Homo sapiens: one gene and its partner. The protein of the gene in region 1 interacts with the protein of each later gene in a pairwise test. Each region holds a gene or a part of one and is shown in the gene's direction. Other genes may lie near its edges.

Region 1 (3,817 bases):
AGTTCGGGCAACAGAGTGAGACTCCATCTCAAAAAAAAAAAAAAAAAAAAAAAGAATGAGTTGGTGATTGGATCCGTTGCTATAGTTAATAAAAGGAGTCAATAGCCTGGTACATTACTTGAGGTTGCTGCTTTAGTTATAGCTTCAATAGTCCCTTAAAATAAAGCGCAGACCTCGATAGACCCATTCACACTCCTTATGACAAGAACAAAATTCAACTTTTGAAAGTTTTTTGGGTAACATCTCTCATACTCCTTATCCTTGCTGTTTATAATCACATTAGCATCTGAGTACAGATGTTCTAGTTCCCTTTGCACCATGGGATTGAATATGATAACTTTATATAAAGAATTACTCTAAAGAATACCAGAAAAAAAACACGAAAACCTCGCTGTTTTAGGTATGGATTAATACTGTGTTAGTATCTTGAGCTAGATTTATATAGCACGAAACAGCATATCATTGTTTTATGGCCCCTAAAATGGGTTGCTTTACCTCAGAATTTGTGTGGGGGGTGGCAGAGAGATGAGGATGGGAGACAAGGCTCCCCCTCTCCTTAAGTGCAGGACATTTCATGTGTGTTTCTTGACTGCCTGCAGGATGGCCAGCTGATTGAGTGTCGCTGCTGCTATGGGGAATTTCCATTCGAGGAGCTGACGCAGTGCGCAGATGCTCACTTGTTCTGCAAAGAGTGTCTCATCAGATATGCCCAAGAGGCAGTCTTTGGATCTGGAAAGGTAAGAACTGTGTAATATGTCCCATGTATATAGGACACATTCCTGGAGTCTAAGGAGACCATGTTGATAGATAAGTGTAAGTGCCTCTTTGAGGGTGAGGTGGAGTTCTGCTGGTATGCTTATGTGTACATTACCTGATGTATGTGATTATGTGGGTTCTCTGAGCACAGCAGATTTCTTTTCAGGGCACAGTAGAATTCTTCCACACTCCCACGCCTAGCCGCAGAGGAGCACCTCCTTCGTTCATCATCTTATTTGTATTCAGAGGGAAGGTTACCTCAGAAAGAGAGAACCTTGCAGCCTATTGGATTAAATATATATTAAAATAACATAACTTACTTTACACAAGATCATATTTCTCTCTCCAAAGTGAGTTTCTCTGGACACCAGCATAACAAACACAGTATGGGAATTTTACATTGTTTTACACCACCGAGTTTGTGGTATTTTGTTCCAGCAGCAATAGAAAACTAACACAGTGATTAAGAAGATGACTTTTTGCCCGGGTGGCTCACGCCTGTAATCCCAGCACTTTGGGAGGCCGAGGTAGGCGGATCACCTGAGGTCAGGAGTTCAAGACCAGCCTGACCAACATGGAGAAACCCCATCTCTACTAAAAATACAAGATTAGCCAGACCTGGTGGCGCATGCCTATAATCTCAGCTACTGGGGAGGCTGAGGCAGGAGAATTGGTTGAATCTGGGAGGCAGAGGTTGTGGTGAGTTGAGATCGTGCCATTGCACTCCAGCCTGGGCAACAAGAGTGAAACTCCATCTCTAAAAAAGAAAAATAGGCCAGGCGCTGTGGCTTATGCCTGTAATCCCAGCACTTTGGGAGGCTAAGTTGGGTGGATCACAAGATTAGGAGTTCGAGACTAGCCTGGCCAACATGGTGAAACCCCATCTCTGCTAAAAATACAAAAATTAGCCAGGTGTGGTGGTGGGTGCCTGTAATCCAGCTACTCGGGAGGCTTAGTGAGCTGAGATCGCACCACTGCACTCCAGCCTTGGTGACAGGGCGAGACTCTGTCTCAGAAAAATAAATAAATAAAGTTTATGTTTTTTCAAAGAGCGTGACCTTTGGAGTCAAGCAGAATGCATTGGGCCATGCCCCCATCAGCCATACTAGCCCTGTGATCTTGAGCAATTTAAATTCCTTAAGCCACTGTTTCTTCCTCTGTAAAATGGAAATAATCATAGCATTGTTTTGAAAGCTAAATGAGGTGATGAGTTTAATGAACTTATTGTTTGACACATGGTAAATGCCTCATAAATTTTAGCTAGTTATTTTTAAAATGTCGTCTTTTTCCATTTGTTTTCTTTGGTGTTTGTCTTTCATGTGGGAAGCATTCCTCATGTCTGACACTTTTTGTTCATGTTAAAGAGCTGTTTGAAAGCTGTGTGAGTAGTGGGGCTTATAGACCAGTGAGTTTGACTCTAGGTGCATAGGAGCCAGTTAGCTTTTATATTATGAACCTGAATGGCTCTGAAGTCTCTTACCTGGGGTGATTCAGTCTGCCTCCTGCCTGGTGGGTGTGAGCCCATTTTCCAACATTCTGAAACTGAGGGGGAGGAAAGGTCTGGAGAGTTCTCTGTTCATTATGCAGACTCCATTTCAGACTCTGACTTCAGGCCACCCCTCAGCTCTGCTCTCCTCTATGAGTGGTTTCCAGTCCAGAGCCGTGTGGTCCAGCTGTTCAGGAGATCTTCCTCATTTCTCTCAGAGTCAGCCAATTCCTTCTGAAGCGGGTAGGAACTAGAGGCTCCACCCATGTCCCTGTTTTCAGTTTATTACTTTGAGTCCCTGCCCCTCCCCACCACTCAGCTCTGCTTTCCAGAGGTTCTCCAGCTTTCTAATATCTGTAGAGGGGAACAACTTCTCCCCAGCATCTCCTTTTCAGACCCTAAGCTATGGGCTTCTGTGTGTGGTCTGCTAAGCCATTTGCCCTTCCGCCACTTTCAGTCTTTGTGGATTGTGATTTGGGCTAATAGAGGTCCTTTAGTGATATCAAAGATGTACTGGATTTTTGTTTCATGGTTTCCATGATTTAAGTGTGATTTCTCAGAGATGAACAGGCAGAGAGATCCTTGCTATGTTGTCTCAGGATCTATGTTTTTAACCACTGACGCTTTTTATTTTTCTATAAATGGTATTGATTTTTTTTTCTTTGCCTTTTCGCCTTTTTCTAGTTGGAGCTCAGCTGCATGGAAGGCAGCTGCACGTGTTCGTTCCCAACCAGTGAGCTGGAGAAGGTGCTCCCCCAGACCATCCTGTATAAGTACTATGAGCGAAAAGCCGAGGAGGAGGTTGCGGCAGCCTACGCCGACGAGCTTGTCAGGTTCGTTCTCAGGCAGAGCGTGCCATCTGCCAACTCTTCCCCATTGTGAAAACTACCTGGGCACTTGCATCAGATGATGAAAATTGTGTTTATCTTCCAGGTTTTTTGACATTTCTTGCTGAGAAATAAGATTATCAATAATTTTACTTATTTATTTTTATTTTTTACGCCTCAGAACCATTGAGTAACCAGTAATTCTATTAATGGAAAAATCTGCCCCTCAAACTTCTTTTTTTTTTTTTGAGGTGGATTCTCGCTCTGTCGCCCAGGCTGGAGTACAGTGGTGCAATCTTGGCTCACTACAACCTCCGCCTCCTGAGTTCAAGCAATTCTCATGCCTCAGCCTCCTGAGTAGCCTGGATTACAGGCGTGCACCACCACATTCCAGCTTATTTTTAGTAGAGACGAGGTTTTGCCATGTTGGCCAGGCTGGTCTCCAACTCCTGACCTCAAATGATCCACCCACCTCAGCCTCCCAAAGTGCTGGGACTACAGGCGTGAGCCACCGCGCCCAGACTGTAGCTCAAACTTCTGTCTACATATCTTGGCACCCCCAAATCTTCTGGCCCGTAGATACAATCATGGTGCCCTGGGCTGGAGGGAAATCGGTATATGCAAGGAGTTCTCATTAAGGTTGGGACGTGTTTATTGAGTGGTTTATATTCAGTCAGGACCTCATGTGGTGCTTATGTTTCCTGATAAGAGCCAGCACAAAGAAGAGGTTCAATCTGTGTTTTTAAGG
Region 2 (3,917 bases), on another chromosome or scaffold:
CTAGTAGAGACAGGGTTTCGCCATGTTGGCCAGGCTGGTCTCGAACTCCAGACCTCAGGTGATCCACCCGCTTCGCCCTCCCAAAGTGCTAGATTTCAGGCTGAGACACCACACCCAGCCTGTACATTGACTTTCTGCCCTTAAACTGTGCTGAAGTTTGTTTCTCAGATGTAGGAGCCTTTGGGCAGAGACTATGGGGTTTCTAGGTATAGAAATTATCTCATCTTCAAACAGAGGTAATTTGACTACCTCTCTCTGCTACTCTCTTCTTACTTGGATGCCTTATAATTCTTTCTCTTTCCTGATGGCTCTGTCTAGGACTTCAAGTACTATGTTGAATAGGATGGTGAGAGTGGGCATTCTTGTCTTGTTTCACTTATGAAGGGAACTTCTTCCAGCTTTTACTCATTCAGTATGATGTTGGTTGTGGGTTTGTCACAGGCGGCTCTTATTATATTGAGTTATGTTTCTTCAATGCTTAGCTTGTTGAGGGCTTTTAACATGAAGAAATGCTTAGTAAAAAGTATGTTCTACATGTGTGTTGAGAAGATCATGTGGTTTTTGTTTTTAGTTTTGTTTAGGTGATGAATCACATGTATTGATTGTGTATGTTCAACCAACCTTGCACCCTAAGAATAAAGTTGACTTGATCATGGTGGATTCACTTTTTGATATGCTGCGGGATTCAGTTCTTAGTATTTTTTGTGGATTTTTGCCTCTATGTTCATCAGGAATATTGGCATGTAGTTTTCTTTTGTTTAATGTTCTTTTCTGTCTTTAGTATCAGGGTGATGCCAGCCTTATAGAATGAGTAAAGGCCACCCTGGGCAAACAGTGAGACCCATCCCTTTTTAAAAATTATGAGTTTTACAAATTTAAAATGCATAGTGAAAAAGTTCTTACAAACTCCAGAAAGATAGGTGTAAATAAGAGACATTTGTAAGAATGACAGCACATTAAATGTGTAGATTTCAACCTTCAGTTATTGCAATATTCCAGTATCAAGTTGGAGGATGTTATCAGTCTGATATTTTTTCCTCAAATGAGAGAGAGAAAGAAAGACACACAAACAACACAGGGAGAAAAAAAGCACACGTTACAGAGAGACAAAAAGGGAGACAGGGAACTGTGAATTTGGACTCTTGTGTCATAAGACAAATTCTAGATAACACGACCAGACCTTCAATTGACATATTGTGTTTTTGCTAATAAGGTGGAATTCTATGATGCGAAATAACTATATAGTCTTTTCTACTGGGATTTAAATCATTTTATCTGTTTCTGGCTTAACAGGAAAAATACAACCATGGAAAATTATGATGATTTATTTAATACGATTGCTCTATAGTGTTAATAAAACCTATTAGGTATTTTGCATATTACATATCAAGGAGAGTTTGAATCTCAGGTAGAAACAAAAAAAAATACATCAAATTTCCTCATGTGAGTGCAGAATTCAATCGTCCCGTGCAGGGGTAAGTGAGTCTGAGATGTGTTTTGAGCCTGGCCGTTGCGCATGATGTGAAGTGACAAGTCTAGTCTGCAGTTTTCAGAAACCCTCATTCCTCCCTTGACTGATTCACCACTTGAACCTCATATGACGTAGAAGAAGCCTACCTATGTCCCCTTCACATGTTGTGGTCAATGTGTCAACTGCACGATCCGGGCCCCTCACCACATCCTCTGCACCGGTCAGTCGAGCCGAGTCACTGCGTCCTGGCAGCAGAAGCTGCACCATGTCCATGTCACCCACGGTCATCATCCTGGCATGTCTTGGTGAGTCCTGGAAGGGAAGGAGCACCAGGGTTACACTATGGGCCTGCAGATTGGGTGTCTCCCCAGCAGAGAGCCATGTTCTGAAGCAAGTGAGTGGTGAGGATGAGTTAATTTTCAGTCCAGCGTGGCGCCCAGTGGCTCAGGAGGAAAGGGTAGGTTGCTGCCGAGATGAATAGTTCATCATGATCTTTCTTTGCAGGGTTCTTCTTGGACCAGAGTGTGTGGGCACACGTGGGTGAGTCCTTCCCCAAATGATGGGTTGCCATCTTCACCCCAATACAAGTGAATTTTCCAGAAATGGGAGGGAGGCAGCACAGAGGGTGGGCTGATGGGCTGACCATGGGAAGGCCTGGGGGGAGTCTCTCATGAACTAGTAAGAGGAGATCCTGGGAGTCTCTCATGAACTAGTAAGAGGAGATCCTGGGAGTCTCTCATGAACTAGTAAGAGGAGATCCTGGTATGCTCAGCCCTCTGTTTTGTCTTAGCCCTCCCCAGCCTTTCTTCCCCATGGCTGAGTTGAGCTCTGTGTGGCCCAGGCGGGATACTGAGGTGCTCAAAGCTGGGGTGTGTGGGGGGATGTGGTGTCACCGACAGAGGAGGGAAGGGTAGCAGTGTTAGGAACAGCAGGTCCTCTGAGGACAAGAGGGTAACTCACACCCTCCAGCGTTTCCATGACGGTAGGGGCTGCAGTGTGGCTGCTGTCATTCTGCCAGAAGAGGTGGGGGAACCACAGCCACGACCCTGCCATTCCAAATCCTCTGATGGAGCTCAGTTGTTTATTGTGGTTCAGGCATTAGCTAATATTCCATTCACAAAGGTCATACCCTCCACCCCATGTCTACTTTGTGTTCTTTGGTGTAACTAATCTTGCAGTATTAAAATCTAGTAAGAGTCCCTTACTCAGCACCTGCTCAGTTCTCAACTGACACTTTTGTTGTAGGGAGACGCCACGTCTATGCGGGATGGGTCCTTCCTGTAGCCCCAGGCACCCAGGTGTGGTAGGAGCCTTAGAAAGAAGAAATGGGGAGAATCTTCTGAGCACAGGGAGGGAGGGGCAGCTCAACATACTCCTCTCTGAGGCGGCATCTCCTTCTCCCCAAGGTGGTCAGGACAAGCCCTTCTGCTCTGCCTGGCCCAGCGCTGTGGTGCCTCAAGGAGGACACGTGACTCTTCGGTGTCACTATCGTCGTGGGTTTAACATCTTCACGCTGTACAAGAAAGATGGGGTCCCTGTCCCTGAGCTCTACAACAGAATATTCTGGAACAGTTTCCTCATTAGCCCTGTGACCCCAGCACACGCAGGGACCTACAGATGTCGAGGTTTTCACCCGCACTCCCCCACTGAGTGGTCGGCACCCAGCAACCCCCTGGTGATCATGGTCACAGGTCAGAGGGCTCCTGTCTGGGCTTCTCCTTGTCCCACCTCCTGAGTCCCAGAGCTTCTGGTGGGGGTGTCCACCAGAGTCCGATCATCCAGGCCCCAACTATATTTGGGGTAAAGGGGGATTGAATACAGGGGAATGGGTGCTGTGTTGGAAAGAATAACTGTCCCCATCGATGGCCACATTGTAATCCTTGGAGCCTGTGACTATGTTATAGGGCAGGGGACTGAAGGGGAAGATGGAGCTCAGGTTGTTGATGAGTTGACCTTGAGATGGGGAGATGGCCTGGACTCTCCCACTGGGCTCAGTGTAATCACAAGGGTCCATATGAGTGGAGAAGGAAGAGGAGAATGGGGATTAGAGCAGCATCGTGGGATACTCCACCAGCCACTGTGGGCTTTGAAGGTGGAGGAAGACCACGAGCCACGAAGGGGCTGGAGAAATCAATGGAACTGATTCTCCCGAGTCTCCAGAGGGAATGCAGCCCTGCAGATGCCTTGATTGTAGCCCAGGAAGAACAGGGTCTGATTTCTGTCTCCAGAAGTGGAAGGGGTCAGTGTGTTCTCTCCTGCCGCCATGTTTGTGATAATTTTCTCCAGCAACAACAGGAAACCAACACAGGAACCCAGGTGAAGGACAAGTTAAAAAACCAAACAAGAAGGTTGGCTACCCTGAGATCAGCAAGGGTGCACTGCTGATGCCACCACCAGGCTGGAACCACATAGGGAGGGATCGACAGGAAGAGTTGGGGGTGGAGGG

Evidence for each region.
Region 2: the proteins of RNF216 (region 1) and KIR2DL4 interact in a two-hybrid assay, tested with the Homo sapiens proteins (one study listed by BioGRID).

Annotation. Positions count from the first base shown.
Region 1 is NC_000007.14:5,711,973-5,715,789, reverse strand, and holds part of RNF216 (E3 ubiquitin-protein ligase RNF216), read left to right. Parts: intron 1-599; coding exon 600-737; intron 738-2,926; coding exon 2,927-3,075; intron 3,076-3,817.
Region 2 is NC_000019.10:54,801,916-54,805,832, forward strand, and holds the start of KIR2DL4 (killer cell immunoglobulin-like receptor 2DL4 isoform c precursor), read left to right. Parts: upstream 1-1,694; 5' UTR 1,695-1,736; coding exon 1,737-1,776; intron 1,777-1,975; coding exon 1,976-2,011; intron 2,012-2,877; coding exon 2,878-3,162; intron 3,163-3,917. UniProt on the Homo sapiens protein: Receptor for non-classical major histocompatibility class Ib HLA-G molecules. Recognizes HLA-G in complex with B2M/beta-2 microglobulin and a nonamer self-peptide (peptide-bound HLA-G-B2M).